Homo sapiens: one gene and its partners. The protein of the gene in region 1 purifies or fractionates together with the protein of each later gene. This does not show direct contact. Each region holds a gene or a part of one and is shown on either strand. Other genes may lie near its edges.

Region 1 (3,095 bases):
AGTAGGAAAAGCACTGGGTTCAAGCCAGAAGACCTGCCTTTACTGTTATGGCCATCATACCTATCTCTTGATTGTGAGGACCAAATGAGACAATGTACATGAAAGCACATATTAAGCTGCAAAGTGTCATGCTAGGTATTATTTGGGGGTTTAAGGATAATTATCTATAAAGATAGCAAGCAATCATCTATATTTTAAAATCATTTATATAAAGTCATTAGGATCATTTAGGAAAGAGAGGATGGAAACTAACATTTATTAAAAACTAACTATACCAGGTACCTTATTACATTATTTTATTTAATCATCATGTATCCCTATAAGTAATATTCTTCTCTTTTATAGAGTAAGAAATTGAGATTCAGGAATATTAATTTGCCCAGGATCATCGAAGTGGAATGAACATCAAAAGCCTATTCCCTCTGCTTGGCCACTTCCACCTCATTTTACTAAGTTTCCCCATGTCTGTGTTAGTAAACTAATAACTAAAAGGGTCTCGCATTTTAAATAGCTTTTTAACCCAAGAGCATGCCACATTTAACCAGAGGCCCATAGAACAAACTGAAAATTACAACCTAAAAGGTTGTTTCTAAGGTTGTATTGAGAAGGAATTGAGCTCTTGAATCCCTAGAATTCCTTATTAATACTTTATTCTTCTGTTAAAAGTTTTATTTTTAAAAGTTTCATACAGTGTGTATATTGGTGTGATAATCCTACAGAAAAATCAAGCAGTTATGTTTTCTTCACAGATAACACATAAAATATTAAACAGAAAGCCTATGTTATTCATTGGACTGAAGCTTTTATGCAATAAACCTTAGTTGGACCAGGAGTAAATGTATGGTTTGATATTCAGAGAATCTCATTCTTAGAAGCAACAAAGTGTAGTTAACACTAACTTGTTCATTCTTAAATCAGTAGTCCTCTCCTCCCCAAAAAGAGATCTTAAATTATTTTCATTTTAAAGTCATCTACTAACAAGTAAGTTTTTATTCAACTTAATTAAATCTAACACCACAAGACAATTTTGTTTTAGTTATTGTTTTGGTTTGAGTTGAGTTGAAAGATTTCTTTTTTTTCTTCTCAGCTTACCACAGTGCGGAGACTCCTTTCTGAAAAGGCCACTCACGTGAACACTAGGGATGAAGATGAGTATACCCCTCTTCATCGAGCAGCCTACAGTGGACACTTAGATATTGTTCAGGAGCTCATTGCACAGGGGGCCGATGTTCATGCAGTGACTGTGGATGGCTGGACGCCCCTGCACAGTGCTTGTAAGTGGAATAATACCAGAGTGGCTTCTTTCTTACTGCAGCATGATGCAGATATCAATGCCCAAACAAAAGGCCTCTTGACCCCCTTGCATCTTGCTGCTGGGAACAGAGACAGCAAGGATACCCTAGAACTCCTCCTGATGAACCGTTACGTCAAACCAGGGCTGAAAAACAACTTGGAAGAAACTGCATTTGATATTGCCAGGAGGACAAGTATCTATCACTACCTCTTTGAAATTGTGGAAGGCTGTACAAATTCTTCACCTCAGTCTTAACAATTCTAGTAATTTTCCTAAGTTTCTAAATACCAGTGCCTCCTGTGTGTGAGATGTATTCCCATAATCAAAGTTGACGTCAAACATCTTACTACAAAAATTCAGTGACATTCATTATAACATTCTTCCAAGTGAATTGCCTGACTTTGATGTCAAAATGTATTTGAAAGTAATTTGCATATATCTTTAATTATTTCTGTGGAGTTTGTGATTTTTTTATCAGAAATAATTTTAATGTGTGTATACTTAAAAACTTGACACGGGTTGTACAGAAACTGGTATTTTTGGTGCTGATACAAGAGAAATGTATTTTTAAATATCCCACATCCTGGATCTTTGTTGGGTATTTAGTATATTGACATATATTTTTATAAGGTGAGGTAACTCAGAACTTAATTTAAAAGTCTTAAATATTCTGATACAATTCAGCTGTCTTCTCTACCTTACCATAGCCAGTTGCTTTCATTTTAAACCAGAGCAAGTAACATATTAGTGACTTGAATCTTCATAAGTTAAAGTAAAAAACAGCAAAAAACCTAGATCTTTGTCTTTTAGAACACAGACCATTTTCAGGAAAGCAGTTAGCTAAGTGTTTAATTCATGAATATTGTATACTGCATCCCCTACCACAATTTACACAATCCTGTGGATAGTCCTACCTCACCCTGGTCAACCTACATGATCCTTAAGCTAATGGCGAATCACGATGACCTTGTAGACATGCACACAACTATACCTTTGTCCAACAGATCATAATATATCTGCTATCCAACTGGTTTTACCTGCCTAATCCTACTGATTTGGGCACTGCTTGTATAGTCTCTCAAGTTCACAGGAAATGTTGATTTTCTAAGGTCCTCATTTTTACAGAGTATACAGGCAAAGTGACAGGGGAAAAGGAATTAGTCTAAGAGTAAGGGGATGATTATTATATTGAGGCTAAAACCACAAAGTGGCTCAGGCTTTAAAAAAAAAACACTGTGGATAATGACAAAAAGCATAAGTAAAAATATTTGAGAAAAATAAAGTACAAGTTTTGAACAACACAAAAGGCATGAATTCATTTTTTACCTGTGTATGTCTTTCTTGGATCCAGAACATTATTCATCCAGCACGCACTTAGTTATTTAACATCTACTCACTCAGTCTCTCCAGCAGCAATTTTGCATTGTCTATCTAGCCCCCCTGTGATTGTTCCCAAAGTTTTGTCTTCTCAACACCACAACACTCCAGGGGAAGGGAACTAAACCAGTTGCTCTTTACTTCAGTTAAATTTTTAAGATGTCCACCAAGGCTTATCTCTTTCAAGCCATCCTACGTAACCCAGTCACCCTAGACTAAGTAATAATGTTATTTAATCAAAGATTAAATATTTATTTTTGCTTAGAACTTATTAGATCATCTCAGAAAAGTCAGAGATAATATATGAACTGAATCATCGTGACAACAGGATCTTGAGAGTTAGTGCTTTAGTTTATGTTGTGATCTCTTCCTAGGGAGATGCTTTGTGGCAGAGGTTGCTTTCTGTTTAATCTGGCCTAAGTTA
Region 2 (3,500 bases), on another chromosome or scaffold:
ATATGGGAATGCAACCAGGCGCGGTGGCTCATGCCTGTAATCCCAGCACTTTGGGAGGCCAAGGTGGGTGTGGATCACCTGAGGTCAGGAGTTCAAGACCAGGCTGGCCAACATGGTGAAACCCTGTCTCTACTAAAAATACAAAAATTAGCTGGGCATGGTGGTGGGCACCTGTAATCCCAGCTACTCGGGAGTCTGAGGCAGGAGGATCACTTGAACCTGGGAGGCGGAGGTTGCAGTGAGCCGAGATCGCGCCACTGCACTCCAGCCTGGGCAACAAGAGCGAAACTTCGTTTCAAAACAAAAATAAAAAATTATATGGAAATGCAAAAGGCCAAGAATAGCCAAGCCAATTGGGAGGGATTACAAAGTTGGACTTCTACTACAGATATAAAATCTTATTATAAAGTTACAGTAATTAAAAGTGTGATATTGGCAAGGACACAGAAATAACACCAATGGATTGTTCACCTGAATTACGATGCAGGAAAGAAGTATTTTCAATGAATACTGCAGTATCAACTGAATATCCATATGGGAGAAATACTGCTTGATCTCTACCTCACTCTGAATTCCAGATTGATTATAGAACTGTGAAAGTTAACTATGAATTACAAACTCAAGTAACTATGAGTTTGTCATTTAAGTTCTTTTACTTATTTTTTTTACTTTAAATGAAGGGTGAATGGGTTAATTTAAGCTGAAACCCCAAATGACAGGTCATGAGTGAACCTGTGAATAATGACAGTGGCTATGTTTTCTTTGTTGCCCAAAGCTGGAGTTCCTGATCTCAGAGAAGCTTACAGGTGTGGGTGCATGGGCTAACTCAATGCTGAACCTTCATTCCACACTCCTAGTGTGTCCTCCTGTAACAAATTAGAGAGAAAGCTAGAGGCTATATTTCTCAGACTTTCTTGCAGCTAGGGGTCTGGATGTGATTTAATTTTGGCCACGTAGATGCACCTAGAGAAGGCAGACGTGAGATGCAGGCTGTGCTAAATGCCAGCAAGCAGGGTCATGGAAGTGCCTTTTCTGAGGCAGTGTGCAGACATGAGGTTCTTAAGTGGCAAGAGGAATGGTACAAAACATCTAACTGGAGGTAGATTGTAGCAAGCCTGACAAGTGTTGCAGAGAACCAGCAGTGGTAGTGTGGATTCCTGATTATGGCACTATCTGGACCCTCTCAATATTGGTATACTTGGGAGTGAGTGGTTTCCTGAACTTAGAAGAGGAAGCAGCTCTCCTGGTTGACCCAGTTCTGTAATGTGGCATTGGGAGTGATTCCTCAAAGCTCTCTCAGTTCTCAACAATTCTAAGTTCAGATTAGTATGTCATTTGGAAAGTCTTCTCTTGCTTAAACTAATTAGAATTAACTCTGTTCTCTGCAACTGGACCTTAAAATATTAGGTAATGGTGATGAGTCTGAGAAGGTAGTAAGGACACCGTCAGGAACTGTGCTGAGATTTTATCCTGTTTGCATGCTGCCAGTCACAGTTTCATGGATCCTGACAAAAGAGATGAGACCCCTGGGTCAGAGTCAGATGACTTCATTCACAGCACAGCAAAAGCAGCATAAGTTTCACGTTCCATCAGTTCCCTTTGCCCTCCAAGCCCCATGTGGGCAATGCAGAGTGGCCCAGGTGGGTGCTGAGCACACAGTGGGTTTGCATCATAGGTGGGAGACGTTATCTTTATTATACTGGACAGTAAAAGAACCCGACATCCTCACAAGGGAGAACTCTATCTTCCAAGGCTGTTTACTACATAAATATCCTTGGAAAAGATAGTCAAAAGAAAGGTTGTCAGAGCCTCTGCTTCCCTGATGTGTAGAAATGCAAGAGACCCATGGAGAATTGTTTTCCAACACACTTTAGCCAGCTTTTCATGTGAACTATTCCCACTCTTGTTTTAGAGCCCAAGACCACGTTTTATCTTTTAAAAATACACTTTAATCTAACCATGGAATTTCACAAACATTTATATACAATCAGAGACTAATTTGAAGTATGTTTTCCATTCATTTCAGCCATGAGAAAACACATTGCAGTAAAAATTAAAGATACCCATCCATAAATTACTTTTATTTCTCATTAAATGAGCACAGAGTCATTAGTATATTAATAACAGATATGTTTATTATTACATATCCATCAGTGCGGCTTTCAATACCACTTGAAACATGCATATCATCCTAGAGACGATCGGTTTTCCAGTGCTTCTTATCTGATACACATTACTGCAAAGCCATTATAAATTACTGAGGAGGTATTTGGTTAAAAAAATAAACAATAAATCATACTGTCCATATGAATCAACTCTTGTTACTGGACAAGAGTTTAACAGTATTTATCTGGTAATTCCTATGTTAACTGGAAAACATCATGGATGTATTGCCATATTTCCTTTTTATGTTGGTGCAACCTTCTACATTTTTTGCAGTTTTATAAAGTCATTATTGTAGCAGGTAGTTTGATGCAAAGATTGTACTCAATTTATGAAAGTCCAACAAACCTCTAAATATTTTAAATTAAACCAATTATCAATGAAAAACTCACTGACACACATAATTTTTTGAAAATACATTTTTTGAAATTTCTATACTTACTCATGGCAGTAAAATAATTATCTCAAATTAAGGCACTAAAAGGACAATGCAACCCCCATTGAAAGTGTTCTAAGAATAATTTACATTTCAAACAGTGCATACATTTCTTATATGTTTGTTAACTTAATGTCTTTATCATTTAAAACCACAAAGAAATACATTATACAATTATAGAAATGATGTACCCCACAAAATGCTTTTAAACTTGGTTCTTTTGTACAGTTAGTTTCCTAATGTCTCTAGTAGTAAAATAACTCAATATGGCTTGGCAAAAATGCATAGATTAAATGTAACTTTTTTTTGTCCTCTCCCATTCCCCAAACTTGCTGAAACATATACAGTATTTTGTAAAGCATAATGAAAGATATTTAATTTCTCCATCAAGTCCAACATGGGCAATCAACAGTAAGGCTTTTAAATTCTACAGTGAGGGCACTGAAGTTCAAGTGATATCACTGCTTTCTTAAAATAGTTTTGTATAGTCTTGCAAGAGCACAAAAACTTAAGTCATTAAAAAAAAAACAAAACTTCAGTTTGTCTCATTTTGAGATATTTTCTTTACTCCTTCCATGAGCTGATCTTGATAGTGATGGCTGTTCCACTTGAAAGTGAAAGTCCCTTCCTCTTACTCATATGAGGAAAACTCTGTTCTATCACGACTGACAGGCATTTTCTTATAAATCCAAAAAGGCAGCACCTTTTAAAAAAAATATATCTACCTAAGCTTTCCCCCAACTGTACTTGCATTACATAGTAATAATTAATCTAATCTACCTGTAGGCAAACCCGCAATAAAAAAAACCCTCAGTGTGTTGTGCCAAAGCAAGGACAGAAAAACAGCAATCTTAACCCTGAAGCCTGTGATATTTGTGTCAAAGAAACAGCCTGTCTGCTC
Region 3 (3,500 bases), on another chromosome or scaffold:
ATTTTCTTTTTTCTTTTTCTTTTTTGAGACAGAGTCTCGCTCTGTCATCCAGGCTGGAGTGCAGCAGCGCTATCTCGGCTCACTGCAAGCTCTGCCTCCTGGGTTCACGACATTCTCCTGCCTCAGCCTCCCGAGTAGCTGGGACTATAGGTGCCCACCACGATGCCCGGCTAATTTTTTGTATTTTCAGTAGAGATGGGGTTTCACCGTGTTAGCCAGGATGGTCTCGATCTCCTGACCTCGTGATCTGCCCACCTCAGCCTCCCAAAGTGCTGGGATTACAGGTGTGAGCCACCGCACCTGGCCTATTTTTTCTTTTTTAAAGTGCTCACCTTTCCGCTTCTTTATTTTATTTTCTTTACAAGGACTATCTCTTGGCGAACTGTTGTTACTTGGAGCTGTCAAATCGATTCCTAGTAAACTATAAAGTTTTTTCCTGTCTGGAGCAGGAAAATGTTTTTCAATGAGTGACTGCAACACACCTCTGTAGGAGAGAAACAGTGACAATTACTGCTTCAGTTGACAAAATAATTATATGTAAAGTATTATTAAATATATTGAAATATACTTTGTTCAGTTTTACAAAATACTGATAAACGAGCTCAAATAAATTTTAATTTTCTAGCCCAAAGCTGTCCAACTAAATAATAAGAATGCAAGCCAAACCACATACACAATTATTGTATTTTCTGGTAGCTTAAATTAAAAAAGTAAAAAATAAATAAAACTGGTGGAACTAATTTTAATAATACATTTTAACTCAATATACCATGTCAACACATATGTTTTATGTTATTTTCTCTTAAGGAGTCTTTGAAACCTGGCTCAGTACACATATAATAACATCTCAATATGGACCAGTCATTTCAACTGCTCAATAGCCACATGTGACAAGCGGCTGCCATTCTGGACACGGTAGTTCTAGGCAATTATGTACAGAAAAATATAGATTAGCAGGTGTATGTCTTGCTTTTTTCTTTTTTTTTTTTTTTTTGAGACCGAGTCTCTCTGTCACCCAGGCTGGAGTGCAATGGTGCCATCTCAGCTCACTGCAACCTCCGCCGCCTGGGTTCAAGCAATTCTCCTGCCTCAGCCTCTCCAGTAGCTGGGATTACAGGTGCCCGCCACCACGCCTGGCTAGTTTTTGTATTTTTAGTAGAGACGAGGTTTCACCGTGTTGGCCAGGCTGGTCTCAAACTCCTGAGCTCTCGTGATCCACCAGACTCAGCCTCCCAAAGTGCCTGGATTACAGGCGTGAGCCCCATGTATTGCTTTTGAAAGGAGCATCTGAATGCATCCCGAGGCACAAAATAGTAGAGCAGCAAGTTTATTTTGCTCAGTTTACTACCAGAGTTTGAATGTGGAGGTTAGGCAAACTAAAAACAATGCCTAAAACATTTTAAAATCTATTTCTGAAGATCTCATGCTTATTTTCAACTTTTAAAGTAGACTTTATTTTATTTTATTTTTTTTTGAGACAGGGTCTCACTCTGCCGCCCAGAGGGGAGTGGAGTGGAGTGGTGCGATCTTGGCTCACTGCAACCTCCACCTCACGGGTTCAATGGATTCTCCTGCCTCAGCCTCCCAGGTAGGTGGGACTACAGGACGTGTGCCACCATGCCCAACTAATTTTTTTTATTTTTAGTTGAGATGGGGTTTCACCATTTTGGCCAGGCTGGTCTCAAACTACTGACCTCAAGTGATGTGCCCATGTTGGCCTCCCAAAGTGCTGAGATTACAGCTGTGAGCCACCATGCTCAGCCAACTTATAAAGTAGACTTCGTTATATTAGGACAAACTATAGTTACTGTTCCTGTGGATAACGGTAATTTCAAATACAGTACACTAAAACTGAATCTAAGCCAAGCTGTCACAGATTTCCAAGATGTACAAGATAAACAAAGTCTAGCCCTTCTGTTAGTTCACATACTCTGTGTAATATTAGCAAAATGCTTAACATTTTAGGATTATGAGATTTCTGTTATTGTTTTCCAATAGATACACTGTTACAGAAAAGCAGAAAACTCAGATCAAGAAAACTTAAAGATGATGCAGGTGAAACAAAAGTTTTGTCTCCAGGAAATGCCCACATTGGAACTAAGGTAAGGAAGAACTCAAAAAGAAACAAAAACATTAAAAGAACAAAAACATTACTTGGCAGTTGAAACAAAATCATTCAATTCTCCCCCGCCCTCTTCCAAAGCTTCTAATGTTCTAGCTTCTCCTGTAGACTGCAGACCAATTACAACACACTGGAGAAAAAAGAAAACATGTTAATTATGAATAATAATGTTTGTGGCTTCTTACCAAGACATATTTTAAACATTTAGCTAAACAAAGATTTCAAACAAGAATGTCCTCATTATTATAAAACACAAATTTGTTTTACTTATTTCTTCTACATATTTGAGACAGGTTATTTGTCAAAAATTTAGGCAGGAGATAGGATTACAGACAGTAGTAAGCATGAGTGAAGCCCCTGCCCTTGTACAGTTTATAGTATCTTATGCTTTAAGTAGATAAATATTCACCGAAAAGAAAAAACCTTAACGCAATACACATCCATATGTTACCAGTGCTACCAGCTATGGATGACCAATTATAGTGATGTTTACTTTGTTATACTTTTCTGAACTCTCTAAATTCTCTAAGCAGGCATTGCTTTTATAATTTTAAGAAATGTATTTTTTAGAAGTTTTACTATCCTTTAGGAAAACCAGATTTTACAAGCAGAAAACCTCAGCACCCACAAAGACTAAACAACATAACCCCCAAACAATCTCTTAATGAGTTCTTCTACTTACTTTTCCATTCTTGATTTCCTCTCGAGCTAGTTGCACAACCCTTTTAACTTTGGATGCTATGCATAAGTATTTGAAGAACCTCTGGTGAGCAGACCAGAACTGACCCCACATGGACTTCTTCATTCGTTGCTCAGCATCAATCAGATCTGCAGCTTGCTGAAACCGCTCTCTGGCGATGACCCACTGAAGATACATAATCAACATTTCAGACACTTCATCTTTGAGTCTAGTTATTTAAAAATACCAATTAAATCAAAACAATGTTAAGTGCAAGACCATTTAATATTAATTTAATAAATCATCTTTAGTAACTTGGGAATCTATTTCTCAGGATACTCACACAGTTGTCTCAAGTTTCTTATTACCTAATGCAGTCATTTTAGAAAATAATGTGATTTTAAGAACTATGCAACTGAAATAAATGGCTATAACTTATGAATTACCTTAACAAAATGAAAACATGGACAATCTGAAATATAAGAACATTGGTTAGGCCAGGCGCAGTGGCTGATGCCTGTAATCCCAGCACTTTGGGAGGCTGAGGCAGGTGGATTGCTTGAGCCCAGGAGTTCCAGATCAGGCTGGGCAACACTGTAAAACCTCATCTCTACCAAAAAATACAAAAATCAGCCAGGCACATTGACATGCGCCTGCAGTCCCTGATACTCAGGAGGCAGAGTCTGGAGGACTCCTTGA
Region 4 (2,185 bases), on another chromosome or scaffold:
CCAAGGTACAGCTGAACCATTGCTTCAGAGGGTGCAAGCCCCAAGCCTTGGCAGCTTCCACGTGCTGTTGGGCTTATGGGTGTGCAGAAGGCAAGAGCTGAGGTTTGGGAGCCTCTGCCTCAATTTCAGAGGATGTATGGAAACGCCTGGATGTCCAGGCAGAAGTCTGCTACAGGGGTGAAGCCCTCATGGAGAGCCTCTACTAGGGCAGTGCAGAGGGGAAATGTGGGGTTGGAGACCCTACACAGAGTCCCCACTGGGGCACTGCCTAGTGGAGCTGTGAGAAGAGAGCCATCATCCTCCAGACCCCAGAATGGTAGATCCACTGACAGCTTACACTGTGTACCTGGATATGCTGTAGGCACTCAACACCAGCCTGTGAAAGCAACCATGGGGACTGTACCCTGCAGAGCCACAGGGGCAGAGCTGCCTAAGGCCTTGGGAGCCCACTCCTTGCATCAGAGTGGCCTGGATGTGAGACATGGAGTCAAAGATTATTTTGGAGCTTTAAGATTCAAAGAGTGCCCTGCTGGGTTTCAAACTGGCATGAGGCCTTTAGCTCCTTTGGGCCAGTTTCTCCCACTTGGAATGGGAGCATTTACCCAATGCCTGTACCTCCATTGTATCTTGGAAATGACTAACTTGTTTTTTATTTTACAGGCTCATAGGTGGAAGGAAGTTGCCTTGTCTCAGATCAGACTTTGGAGTTGGACTTTTCAGTTAATGCTGGAATGAGTTAAGACTTTGGGGGACTGTTGAGAAGGCATGATTGTGTTTTGAAATGTGAGAAGAACATGAAATTTGGAAGAGGCCGGGGTGGAATTGACATGGTTTGGCTCTGTGTCTCCACCCGAATCTTATGTTGAATTATAATTCCCAATGTTGGGGGAGGGACCTGGTGGAAGGTGACTGGATCATAGGGACAGATTTTCCCCTTGCTGTTCTGCTGTTCTCATGATAGGGAGTGAGTTCTCACAAGATCTAGTCGTTTAAAAGTGTGTGGCATTTCTCCCTTCACTCTCTTGCTCTCTTGTCGCCATGTGAAGATGTGCTTGCTTCCCCTTCACCTTCTGCCAAGTTTCCTGAGGCCTCTCAGCCATGCCTCCTGTACAGCCTGTGAAACTGTGAGTCAATTAAACCTCTTTTCTTTATAATCTACCCAGTCTCGGGTAGTTCTTTATAGCAATGTGAGAATGGATTAATATACCTGCCACCCTTTTTGCTGGGACCATGCCTCAGAGTTTACAAATCTGCTCCCCATGTACTATCTCCTGGAATCCTCAACAATGCTGTGAGACATTCCCACTTTGAGTTGATAAGATGGGGCTCAGAGAGGCAAGACCTTACGCTTGCCTAAGGTCACCCAGCTGCTCTTTCCTTTCTCCTGCACAGTTACATCAGAAGCCAGTTGGTGACAGAAAAACACGGTCCGCTCAACAAGGATCATACACAAGCCGGTGATACTTTATTATATAAGAGAGTTGTCAAAAGGACAGTTTCATTTCTGTTTCAGAATCCCCACATTCCAGTGATCCATCTGTTGACACAATTAACATAAACTATTTGCTGATATTTACTGAGTGCTTGCAATGTATCAGAGTCATTAAATAAGATGCAACTTCTACTGTGAAAACTGGAATCTTCATTAGGACACAGACTTAGAAAAGGCCCAGTTTCAAGGATTCTGACTTGCACAGACTGAGCACTCCCATTTCCAGAAGTTCGAATACCTCCTTTCTTATCTAAATGAGAGAAAAGGGGGGAAAAAAAGATTAAGATCAAGCCAAAATGGTCTTGGTGAATACATTCAACCATCAGGACTCCCTGATATTTACCCAGCTGTTATGGCCAGAATCAGAGAGTGCAAAAGTCCTAACACACATTTGATTCAGAGTTGAAATTTTTAAAATTATTATTATTATTATTTTGAGACAGAGTCCCATTCTGTTGCCCATGCTGGAGTGCAGTGGCGTGATCTCGGCTAACTGCTATCTCTGCTTCCCAGGTTCAAGTGATTCTCATGCTTCAGCCTTCTGAGTAGCTAGGATTAGAGGTGTGTGCCATGATACCTGGCTAATTTTTGTATTTTTAGTAGAGACAGGGTTTTGCCATGTTGGCCAGTCTGGTCTTGAACTCTTGGCCTCAAGTGATCCACCTGCCTTGGCCTCTCAAAGTGCTGGGATTA
Region 5 (3,500 bases), on another chromosome or scaffold:
AGCTCTTTTCCATTCCTTTCTTTTCTACTCCATAAAGCACATTGGAAGGTGAGTGAGTGATTCCAATAACCTGGAGTCCAGTCCAACACAGTCAATTATTCGTAGCATTTGACTCAGATTATCCTCATACTTCACAGCTGATCACAACACATTTTGGTGTCACCACCATTTCTGATGAGGATCCCACATTCATTTAGTTCCTTACCTTTAGTCAAGGTCAAGATTCTTATCTGCACTCATTTTGATATATTTATTTGATTTATTTACATAACCAGTAGAAAGGAGATTTTAAAAATATTTATTACATTTGTTTCTAGAAATCATAGAAAATAAAAATTGATACAATTTTGATATACAACTTTAGAAAGGCATATTTATCCTTTCACACCAGAGAAGTTTATGCAATGCCAGACATGGAAATACCAAAGCCACTGGTGACAAAGGGTAAACGCTACTGATAGAAGAAAGCCTTGTCCATTTTTATAGTTTTCTTCTCTACCATTATTTATTTTTGAGCAAATACCAGTCCAGTGGAAAGAGTTCTGAACATAAAAGGCACCTAGAGTAAAAATTAGACCTTAACTAATAAAACAGCTGTACACGTTTACATCAAGAAAAAAAAACCCGGCCAGCACAGCTCATGCCTGTAATCCCAGGAGTTAGCCTCGGCAACATGGCCAAACCCCCGTCTCTACAAAAAAATACAAAAATCAGCTAGGCGTGGTGGTGCGCGCCTGTACTCCCAGCTACTTAGGAGGCTGAGGTGGGAGAGTCACTGGAGCCTGGGAGGTCGAGGCTGCAGTGCAAGATTGAGAATTGCAGGATTGCACTGCAATCCAGCCTGTGCTACAGAGTGAGATCCTGTCTCGAAAAAAAAAATAAAAAAATAAAATGGGCCTATCAATGCAACGTTCCTGCAAGGCATTGATAATATAAATGCAAAAGCCACCGCAACCAAAAAGTCTATAATGCTTGCCTGAATCTAGTACATAAGCAGGATAATGACAATCACTTTTTGTTTATAAATTTGTAGATGTCTTATTATTTCAGTCAGCATGAGTACTGTATTTATATTTGTGGGTGGCAGCTCTCAAATTATTTATCCATAGTCCAGATTTGTTTTGTTGCATTTGCTCTTAAAATGCATTGTTGTATACTCCATCACAGATGTGTCAAATACTCCTGCTGTCTTTTGAGAATGTAGCAAAACCTAAACCTGCTACTTTAAACCAAAGTCCTTTTTTTATTATTGTAAAGCTGACATTTTACTCTGATTTAAGCACCTGAAGTGTATTTTGACTAATTTATATTCTGAGCTAAAATTAAGAACCTCAGGATTTGTGTACATGTACAAATATTGCAAATTATTTCTTTAAGCTAATAAAAACTTAAAAATACAAATAATTTTTATTACAAAGATTTGAAATCCATATATGAGTCTGAACTAAGACAAAAATGCACAGGGAGCCAGGAAGCAAACACTTGTGTACGTTTTCTAATCTGTGGACAAGGTACTGCTCAGCGAAGCCAGGTTGTATTCAGCTGCGTCTGGTTCTTGATACTGGTATCCATTTTTAGCACTTCTCGAATGGCCATGGTGGCGTAAGTAGAAGGGGGTAGAGAAAAATCCATTTTCAGAGCCCTGTATTTGCCTTCTGCAAGGCAAGAAAGAAAACAGTCAGAAAATGAAGGCAGCTGCAGACAGACCAGCGAGAGTCACATAATCTCTAAGCAAATACAAAGAACTGTGCTGCTTTCCTTAGACTCCACTTCCTAGGGGGCCTTGGAGAATGAGACCATGGAAGTAAGAGATCTGTGAGTGTGAACCTGCTGAATGGTTACAGAAATTCTGCCCAGGAACTTTCACAAAAAGGCAGATGACAGAAGAACACAAAAGAGAAACGCATGTAAAGTTAAAGAAATAATAATAAATTACGGCCTGGGAAAAAACAGAACAAGAATTTGATGATGAGAATGCCAATTTAATTAATTAATTAATTTTTTTTTGAGACAGAGTCTTGTTATGTTGCCCAGACTGGAGTGCAGTGGTGTAATCTCAGCTCACTGCAGCCTCCACCTCCCGGGTTGAAGCGATTCTCCTGCCTCAGCCTCCTGAGTAGCTGGGATTACAGGTGCCCACCACCACGCCCGCCTAATTTTTTTTTTTGTATTTTCAGTAGAGACGGGGTTTTGTCATGTTGGCCAGGCTGGTCTGGAACTCCTGACCTCAAGTGATCCACTTGTCTCGGTCTCCCAAACTGCTGGGATTACAGGTGTGAGCCACCACGCCCAGCCACCAATTTTTTTTTTTTTTTTTTTGAGATGGAGTCTCGTTTTGTCACCCAGGCTGGAGTGCAGTGGCGTGATCTTGGCTCACTACAAGCTCCGCCTTCTGTGTTCACACCATTCTCCTGCCTCAGCCTCTCCAAGTAGCTGGGACTACAGGAACCCGCCACCACACCCGGCTAATTTTTTGTATTTTTAGTAGAGACGGGGTTTCACCGTGGTCTCGATCTCCTGACCTCGTGATCCGCCCGCCTCGGCCTCCCAAAGTGCTGGGATTACAAGCGTGAGCCACCGCACCTGCCCAACCAATTTAATTTTTTAGACTCTTCCTGAATTTTCACTCACCTTTGGTAAGTCTCTGTGGGGGATGGGGAGAAATACTCCATCACCTAATATCACAACCATCTATAACATGCACTTATTTTCAGGAGGATTTACTGGTTTTAATCACTAACTTTCAGCCATAATTGTGAAAGTAAGGTCATAAAACACAACAATGAAATCATGGGTGGTGGTAGTGCTTGTAAGAGCAGTTTTCAAAAAAAAATTATGTTTTTGTTTAACAAAACATTTCAAAGTCAACACAGAGCTGATGACTGAGTAAACTTACCAGAAGCAAAAACTGGTGGTGTCTTCCCTTCTAGGTTGTCCACATCTGTGTTGAAAAGTGGAATTTTGGGATCATCATATGCAACGACTTCCCTTCAAAACATATGAATAAAGATAAGTGTGAATGTGAACTTTCATAAAAGGTACTAAGCCACTCATCATCATTTATTTAGCAAGAAAAACAAGTAAGTTTACTGTAAATAATTATAGTTAGGAATCTTGAATAATATAGCAGGGCCAGATTTTATACCTAAGTTTTGCTTATATATATAATTTTTTTTTTTTTTTGAGATGGAGTCTCAACTCTGTCACCTAGGCTGGAGTGCAGTGGTGTGATCTTGGCTCACTGCAACCTCTGCCTCCTGGGTTCAATCAATTCTCCTGCCTCAGTCTCACAAGTAGCTGGGACTATAGGTGTCTGCCACCATGCCTGGCTAATTTTTGTATTTTTAGTAGAGATGGGGTTTCACTATGTTGGCCAGGGAGGTCTCAAACTCCTGACCTCAGGTGATCCACCCGCCACAGTCTCCCCAACTGCTGGGATTATAACGTGAGCCACTGTGCCTGAATATAATAGGCTCAATCCAATTATATTCTATTAGTTA
Region 6 (3,500 bases), on another chromosome or scaffold:
AAGAAGCATATATGAAGGCAATGCTTAGCATATTAAGCATTTGTCAACACAATCATGCAGGTAATTAAGACAATACCAGCCCTGCTCTGGCGCGTTTCTATCTAAATAAAGTACTGCTAGAGAACACTTCGCTAATTCATTTCCATGGCATAGAAACCTCAATAATTAAACATTAGAAATTGTTCCAAGTCTATAATCCCTTGAAAATAAAATGTCTATCACTTGCTTTATAACTAAAGAAATCTGAGGTGAAACTCTTTTAGAGAATAAAGGAATTCAGACATTGAATATAAGTGGTCAATCACCTATGACAAAAAAAAATTATAAAGCACTTTAGATATCTGAACAAACAGCCCATACCTTACCAAAATGAAGTACCAAACCATAAAATCATTCCTGGACTTAGAAACATTCCCCAAAATATTATTGACAATGAACTAAAAATGAATCCAAATAGTTCCCTTTGACTGATACACACACACACACACACACACACACACACACACACACACAGACACACACACGGAAGGGGAAGGCGGGGAATGAGAGAAATGCTAAGTATTGTGACCCAAATGCTTTTTGAAAAGATATGTGAGGGTCATTTAGAAAACCTAACTGCAGAATTTACAAGAATATCTATATAATTTAATAATACTTTAAAGGGGGGCAGGAGTACAGATGAGAGGAAAGAAAAATGACTCCAATTAAGGATAAAGTGAGTATAGTTTTAGTTGAGCCCCAAATGCACCATGATTTCACATCAATTTATTAAACAGTAAGCTCCATATGCTAGTCCACCAAGGGAAAATGTTCTTTTATTATTTTTAAAAGCTGTAAGTTGCACTGAGTCATCCACATTCTCTCCACCAGTAATCCTTATCACTAACAAATTAGAGTTTTAAGTATAGTTGTATAGTATTTTCATGAAGAAATTCAAGAGGCCCAAATAGAGACCTAACCTATAATCATTAGACCTTAATCATTAAACCTTTTTTCTCACCCCAATCACCACTCTCCAAATAGAAAGTATAATAAAGAGATGTAAACAGAAACTCCCAATTAATATTTTGGGAAATTTAATACCTAGACAAATCTCAATCTCCTGATATAATCTTTGAACTCCTACTTCATACTTTCCATCAGAATTCCAAATGAAATGAAAATATCAATAAAAATAAAGCCATGTGAGAACAAAAAGTCAGGTATATGATGATATAATCCTGGTAACAGAGAATTTCCTAAACATGACCACTAAGCCAGAAATCACTTTACAGTGAAACGATTGATAATTGTGACTATATAAAACTCATACTATTCATTAAATATTTAAAAAGATAAAGCACATGAATACTGTAATTTTTAAATACATATAAGTTAAGATATATAAACCAAAATGTTAATTTAAACAGTGATTATCTCTAAGGAAGGAGATTGTAGATAAGTGCTATTAGCATTTATACCCTTCTATGCTCCCTAAATTTTCTACAACGAGAGCATATTATTTTTATAATTTAAAAAATGACAAATCTTTCTTCACTTTAAAAAATAAAATCTATGTTTCCCTCTCAGCCATAGTTGGTTGTCACTTCCCTCAGGTACAGATAAAACTAAAAAGAAATGACTTTTTTTCCAGAGACAGGGTCTCATTCTATCACCCAGGCTAAAGTGCAGCAGCACCATCACAGCTCACTCAGTCTCAAACTCCTGGACTCAAGCCATCCTCCTGCCTCAGCCTCCTGGGCAGCTAGGATCACAAGTTTGTGCCACCATGCCTGGCTAATTTTTTTATTTCTGTAGAGGCGACAAATCTCACCATGTTGCCCAGGCTGGTCTCAAACTTCTAGCCTCAAGCAATCCTCCCAACTCAGCCTCCCAAAGCACTGGTATTACAGGCATGAACCACTGTGCCCAGCCAAGAAATGACTTTTGAATTGAGCATGGGTTAAACAATAGAACCAGGACTGATGATCCGGTGTAGCTACTAAGGTGGTAGAAAAGCAAATTTAAAAGTCCAACTGTCAGTAAACTGACTTTTAACAAAGGTGCCAAAGCAATCCAATGAGAAAACTTAATTTTTTTAAAATGGTGCAGGATAGTCTGGATAACTGGATAATTATGTGGAGAAAAAAAATTAACTTCAACCCCTAACTCACACCACACATTAAATTTAGCTTAAAATGTATCCTAGACCTAAATGTAAAAGTCAACCATAAAGCTTTTGGAAAAAAGCAAAGGAGAATATCTTCACGACATGAGGATGGCGACAATTACTTGGGCAGAAAAGCAACAACCATTAAAAATTTTTATTAAAAAAAGAGATATGGGGCCAGGCATGGCGGCTTGTGCCTGTAATCCCAGCACTTTGGGAGGCCAAGGCGGGTGGATCACTTGAGGTCAGGAGTTGGAGACCAGCCTGGCCAACATGGTGAAACCCTGTCTCTACTATAAAAATACAATAATTAGCCGGGTGTGGTGGTGCATGCCTGTAATCCTAACTAATCAGGAGGCTGAGGAGGGAGAATCACTTAAACCCATGAGGTGGAGGTTACAGTGAACCGAGATTGTGCCACTGCACTCCAGCCTGGGCAACTCAGCAAGACTCTACCTCAGAAAAAAAAAAAAAGAGACAGAGAGAGAGATACACCATAAGCTAGGAAAAAACATTCACAAAACATTTATTTGACAAAGAGTGTTCTCTTTATATACAAAAGAACTTCTAAGATTCAATAATAAATACAAATAAATGACCCAATGTTTTTTAATGGGCAAAAATGGAGGTATGTTGCTTCAAACAGATGCTTCACAAAGGAAAATATATAAATGGCCCGTAAGTGCAAGAAAAAGTACATCATTCATCATGAGGGAAATGCAAATCATGCAAATCGAAATCACATTTTAAAGAGCAGTGTCGGGGAAGATGTGGAGCAACTGGAACTCTCATATACTGTTGGTGGGAGTATAAAATGGTATAACTACTTCATAAAAAGATCTGGCAGTTTCTTTTTTTTTTTTTGAGACAGAGTCTCACTCTTGTTGCCCAGGCTGGAGTGCAATGACCCAGTCTCAGCTCACTGCAACCTCCCACCTCCTGGGTTCAGGTGATTCTCTTGCCTCAGCCTCCCAAGCAGCTGGGATTACAGGTGCGTGCCACCACGCCTGGCTAATTTTTTTTTTCTTTTAATTTTTAGTAGAGATGGGGTTTCACCATGTTGATCAGGCTGGTCTCGAACTCCTGACCTCAAATGATCCACCCACCTCAGCCTCCCAAAGTGCTGAGATTACAGGCATGAGCCACCATGCCTGGCCATCAGTTTCTTAAAAAGTAAACACATATCTGCCCTATGAGTTAGCAATTCCACTACAAGGTATTTAATTTACCCAAAAGAAATGAAAACTTTCATAACAACTGTATTAAGAGCCAAAGTAGGCTGGGTGCAGTGGCTCAGGCCTCTAATCCAACGTTTTCAGGGGCTGAGGCTGGAGGATCACTTGAGGCCAGG
Region 7 (3,500 bases), on another chromosome or scaffold:
CATCAATTTTCAACATGAAAGTGAAACAAAGATATTTTCAGAAAGTTTTCCCCACAGAAGCTCTCTTTGACAAAACTCTTGAAGGATGTATTCTAGCAAAAAGAAAAACAAATGTAGGAGAAAACAGTAAGAAGTCGGTGCATGAGGCTGAGCACAGTGGTTCACACCTGTTACCCCAGCACTTTGGGAGGCCTAGATGGGCAAATCACTTGAGGTCAGGAGTTCAACACCAGCCTGGCCAACATCATGAAACCCCGTCTCTACCAAAAAATACAAAAATTAGGCTGGGTGTGGCAGCATGCACCTGTAGTTTCAGCTACTGGGAGGCTAGGCACCAGAACTGCTTGCACCCAGGAGGCGGAGGCTGCAGTGAGCCAAGATTACGTCACTGCACTCCAGCCTCAGAGTGACACCCTGTCTCAAAAAAAAAAATGTAGGTGCATGAAATTTTAGGCGAGCCTGGGCGCAGTGGCTCACGCCTGTAATCCCAGCACTTCGGAAGGCGGAGGTGGGCAGAACACGAGCTCAGGAGATCAAGACCATCCTGGCCAACATGGTAAAACCCTGTCTCTACTAAAAATACAGAAATTAGCCGGGCCTGGTGGTGTGTGCCTGTAATCCCAACTACTCTGGAGGCTGAGGCAGGAGAATTGCTTGAACCCGGGAGGCAGAGGTTGCAGTGAGCTTAGATCGCACCACTGTACTCCAGACTGAGCAACAGAGTGAGACTCTGTCTCGAAAAAACAAAACAAAATAAGGAAACAACAACAACAAAAATTAGCTGGATGTGGTGGCATGTGACTGTAGTCCCAGCTACTCAGGAGGCTGAGGTGGGAGGATCACTGGAGCCCAGGAGACAAAAGTAGAAGTAAACCGAGATTACATCACTGCATTCCAGCCTGGGCGACAGATTGAAACCGTGTCTTACAAAATAATAATAATAATAAAAAAAGGAGCAGGCCGGGCACAGTGGCTCACGCCTGTAATCCCAACACTTTGGCAAGCCGAGGCGGGCGGATCACCTGAGATCGGGAGTTGAAGACCAGCCTGACCAACATGGAGAACCCTAGTCTCTACTAAAAATACAAAATTAGCCAGATGTGGTGGCGCATGCCTGTAATCCCAGCTACTTGGGAGGCTGAGGCAGGAGAATCGCTTGAAACCAGGAGGCAGAGGCTGCAGTGAGCCGAGATTGCGCCACTGCACTCCAGCCTAGTCAAGAGAAGCGAAATTCCGTCTCAAAAAAACAAACAAACAAACAAAAAAAACTCCAAAAAACAAAACTCCTGTTTCTGGTGGGAATATAAATTGGTACAACTACCATTTCAGCAAATAGTTTAGCATCAGCTAATATAGGTCAAAACATACATACCCTAAGACCCAGCCACTTCCCTTCCAAGAATATATCCTAGGAAAACTCATGTACATGTTGATGTGGATTCTGAACAAGAATGCTCACAGGGGCATTGTTCCTATTGGCCCTAACTGTGGACAACCTCAATATCTACAGGAGAACCAGAAAAATAAACTACACTTAGCCATGTGATGAATATGCAGCAAAATACAGCAGAGAGAGCAATGGAAAGGAATGGGTAACTCCAAGGACAACATGGATGCATTTTACAAACATAATGCTGAGCAAAAGAAACAAGACACACGAAAATAGATACTTTATCATGCTGTTTCCATAACACTCAAAATGTTAGAGGCTGGTGCAGTGGCACATGCCTGTAATCCCAGCTATTTGGGAGGCTGAGATAAGATCCCTTGAGCCCAAAAGTTCAAATCCAGCCTGGGCAACAATGAGACCCCCCACCATCTCTAAAAAAGGAAAAAGCGTGGGTACGATGGCTCATGCCTAAAATCCCACCACTTTGGGAGGCCGAGGTGGGAAGATCATTTGATCCCAGGAATTTGAGACCTATCAGCCTAGGTTGACATAGCAAACTCCCATCTCTCCAAAACAAACAAAAAAAAGAAAGAAAAAAAATTAGCTGGGCATGATGGCATATGCCTGTGGTCCCAGCTTCTCAGGAGGCTGAGGTGGGAGGATTGCTTGAGCCTGGGAGGTCAAGGCTCCAGTGAGCTGAGATCATGACACTGCACTCCAGCTTCGGTGACATAGTGAGATTTTGTCTCTGGAAAAAAAATCTCAAAAATAATAATAAAGGAAAAACTGTTTATGAATGACTAGACAAGTGGTAAGAAAAGCAAAAGTAGGAGAGTCATTACCTTTAGAGGGACAGGAGGAAGAGGATGGGAAGAGCTGCAGAGAGGTCTGCTGGGGTCTTGGCAAAGCTGTGTTTTGCAGAGTGGTTCTCACAAGAGTGTTAGCTTTATATTTATTCATACACTGTACATTTATGTTTTATATACTTCTCTGTATGTGTTTTATATTTGAAAATTTAAAAAACAATTAGAAAAAATAAAGTTGGAAACAATCTGGGTATTTATCACCCAGAAAATATGTAGATAAAGGTACTCACTGCAAATAAGAAAATGCAATGCATGAGTCAAAGGTAATAATTCTATTTATATTTACAGATACATGGAGGGTTCTCAAAACAAGGTTGGGCCAGGCACGGTGGTTCATGCCTGTCATCCCAGCACTTTGGGAGGCCAAGGCAGGCGGATTACTTGAGGTCAGGAGTTTGGGACCAACCTGGCCAACATGGTGAAACCCGTCTCTACTTAAAATAGAAAAATTAGCCAGGCGTGGTGGCAGGCGCCTGTAATCCCAGCTGCTCAGGAGGCTGAGGCAGGAGAATTGCTTGAACCTGGGAGGCAGAGGTTGTAGTGAGCTGAAATTGCACCATTGCACTCCAGCCTGGCGACAGAGCGAGAGTCCGTCTCAAAAAAACAAAAAAGCAAAAAACCCCAAATTAAAAAACCAAAGTTGAACCACAGAGAATACAAAGAGGTTCTGGCAAAATACTGTACATATTTTTTTTTTGTTTTTTTTTTGTTTGTTTGTTTGGTTTTTTTGAGATGGAGTCTCACTCTGTCGCCCAGGCTGGAGTGCAGTGGTGCGATCTCGGCTCACTGCAAGCTCCGCCTCCTGGGTTCACACCATTCTCCTGCCTCAGCCTCCCGAGTAGCTGGGACTACAGGCGCCCACCACCATGCCCGGCTAATTTTTTGTACTTTTAGTAGAGACGGGGTTTCACCATGTTAGCCAGGATGGTCTCGATCTCCTGACCTCGTGATCCGCCCGTCTCGGCCTCCCAAAGTGCTGGGATTACAGGCGTGAGCCACCACGCCCGGCCCACATATTTAAGTTTTGTTTAAACACAAAAATACACATATGAAACAATGCTATGTATTTTTAAAGAATATACAGGTATCCAAATACATCCAACAAAGATGAAGCACAAAGGTCTACACCAGAATTAGAAAGATGTATATACATATGATACACACAATACAGTGGGGGACTAATCGCATAAGAGCAAGTATCAGCAAACTTTTTCTTAAAGGGTCAGATGATAAATATTTTAGGT

Evidence for each region.
Region 2: the proteins of ANKRD49 (region 1) and ROCK1 purify together in Homo sapiens (affinity purification with mass spectrometry; one large-scale study listed by BioGRID and IntAct). This does not show direct contact.
Region 3: the proteins of ANKRD49 (region 1) and SBNO1 purify together in Homo sapiens (affinity purification with mass spectrometry; one large-scale study listed by BioGRID and IntAct). This does not show direct contact.
Region 4: the proteins of ANKRD49 (region 1) and CMSS1 purify together in Homo sapiens (affinity purification with mass spectrometry; one large-scale study listed by BioGRID and IntAct). This does not show direct contact.
Region 5: the proteins of ANKRD49 (region 1) and PUS7 purify together in Homo sapiens (affinity purification with mass spectrometry; one large-scale study listed by BioGRID and IntAct). This does not show direct contact.
Region 6: the proteins of ANKRD49 (region 1) and ROCK2 purify together in Homo sapiens (affinity purification with mass spectrometry; one large-scale study listed by BioGRID and IntAct). This does not show direct contact.
Region 7: the proteins of ANKRD49 (region 1) and BCL7B purify together in Homo sapiens (affinity purification with mass spectrometry; one large-scale study listed by BioGRID and IntAct). This does not show direct contact.

Annotation. Positions count from the first base shown.
Region 1 is NC_000011.10:94,496,984-94,500,078, forward strand, and holds the end of ANKRD49 (ankyrin repeat domain-containing protein 49), read left to right. Parts: intron 1-1,087; coding exon 1,088-1,549; 3' UTR 1,550-2,595; downstream 2,596-3,095. UniProt on the Homo sapiens protein: Induces HBG1 expression. May have a role in spermatogenesis where it promotes autophagy in response to serum starvation, via the NF-kappaB pathway.
Region 2 is NC_000018.10:20,947,814-20,951,313, forward strand, and holds part of ROCK1 (rho-associated protein kinase 1), read right to left. Parts: 3' UTR 1-3,500. UniProt on the Homo sapiens protein: Protein kinase which is a key regulator of the actin cytoskeleton and cell polarity.
Region 3 is NC_000012.12:123,323,348-123,326,847, forward strand, and holds part of SBNO1 (protein strawberry notch homolog 1), read right to left. Parts: intron 2,988-3,500; coding exon 2,805-2,987; intron 2,253-2,804; coding exon 2,155-2,252; intron 485-2,154; coding exon 333-484; intron 1-332. UniProt on the Homo sapiens protein: Plays a crucial role in the regulation of neural stem cells (NSCs) proliferation. Enhances the phosphorylation of GSK3B through the PI3K-Akt signaling pathway, thereby upregulating the Wnt/beta-catenin signaling pathway and promoting the proliferation of NSCs.
Region 4 is NC_000003.12:100,177,862-100,180,046, reverse strand, and holds part of CMSS1 (protein CMSS1), read right to left. Parts: intron 1,743-2,185; coding exon 1,659-1,742; 3' UTR 1-1,658.
Region 5 is NC_000007.14:105,456,272-105,459,771, forward strand, and holds the end of PUS7 (pseudouridylate synthase 7 homolog), read right to left. Parts: intron 2,989-3,500; coding exon 2,897-2,988; intron 1,656-2,896; coding exon 1,519-1,655; 3' UTR 232-1,518; downstream 1-231. UniProt on the Homo sapiens protein: Pseudouridylate synthase that catalyzes pseudouridylation of RNAs.
Region 6 is NC_000002.12:11,334,637-11,338,136, forward strand, and holds part of ROCK2 (rho-associated protein kinase 2), read right to left. Parts: intron 1-3,500. UniProt on the Homo sapiens protein: Protein kinase which is a key regulator of actin cytoskeleton and cell polarity.
Region 7 is NC_000007.14:73,547,691-73,551,190, forward strand, and holds part of BCL7B (B-cell CLL/lymphoma 7 protein family member B), read right to left. Parts: intron 1-3,500. UniProt on the Homo sapiens protein: Positive regulator of apoptosis. Plays a role in the Wnt signaling pathway, negatively regulating the expression of Wnt signaling components CTNNB1 and HMGA1.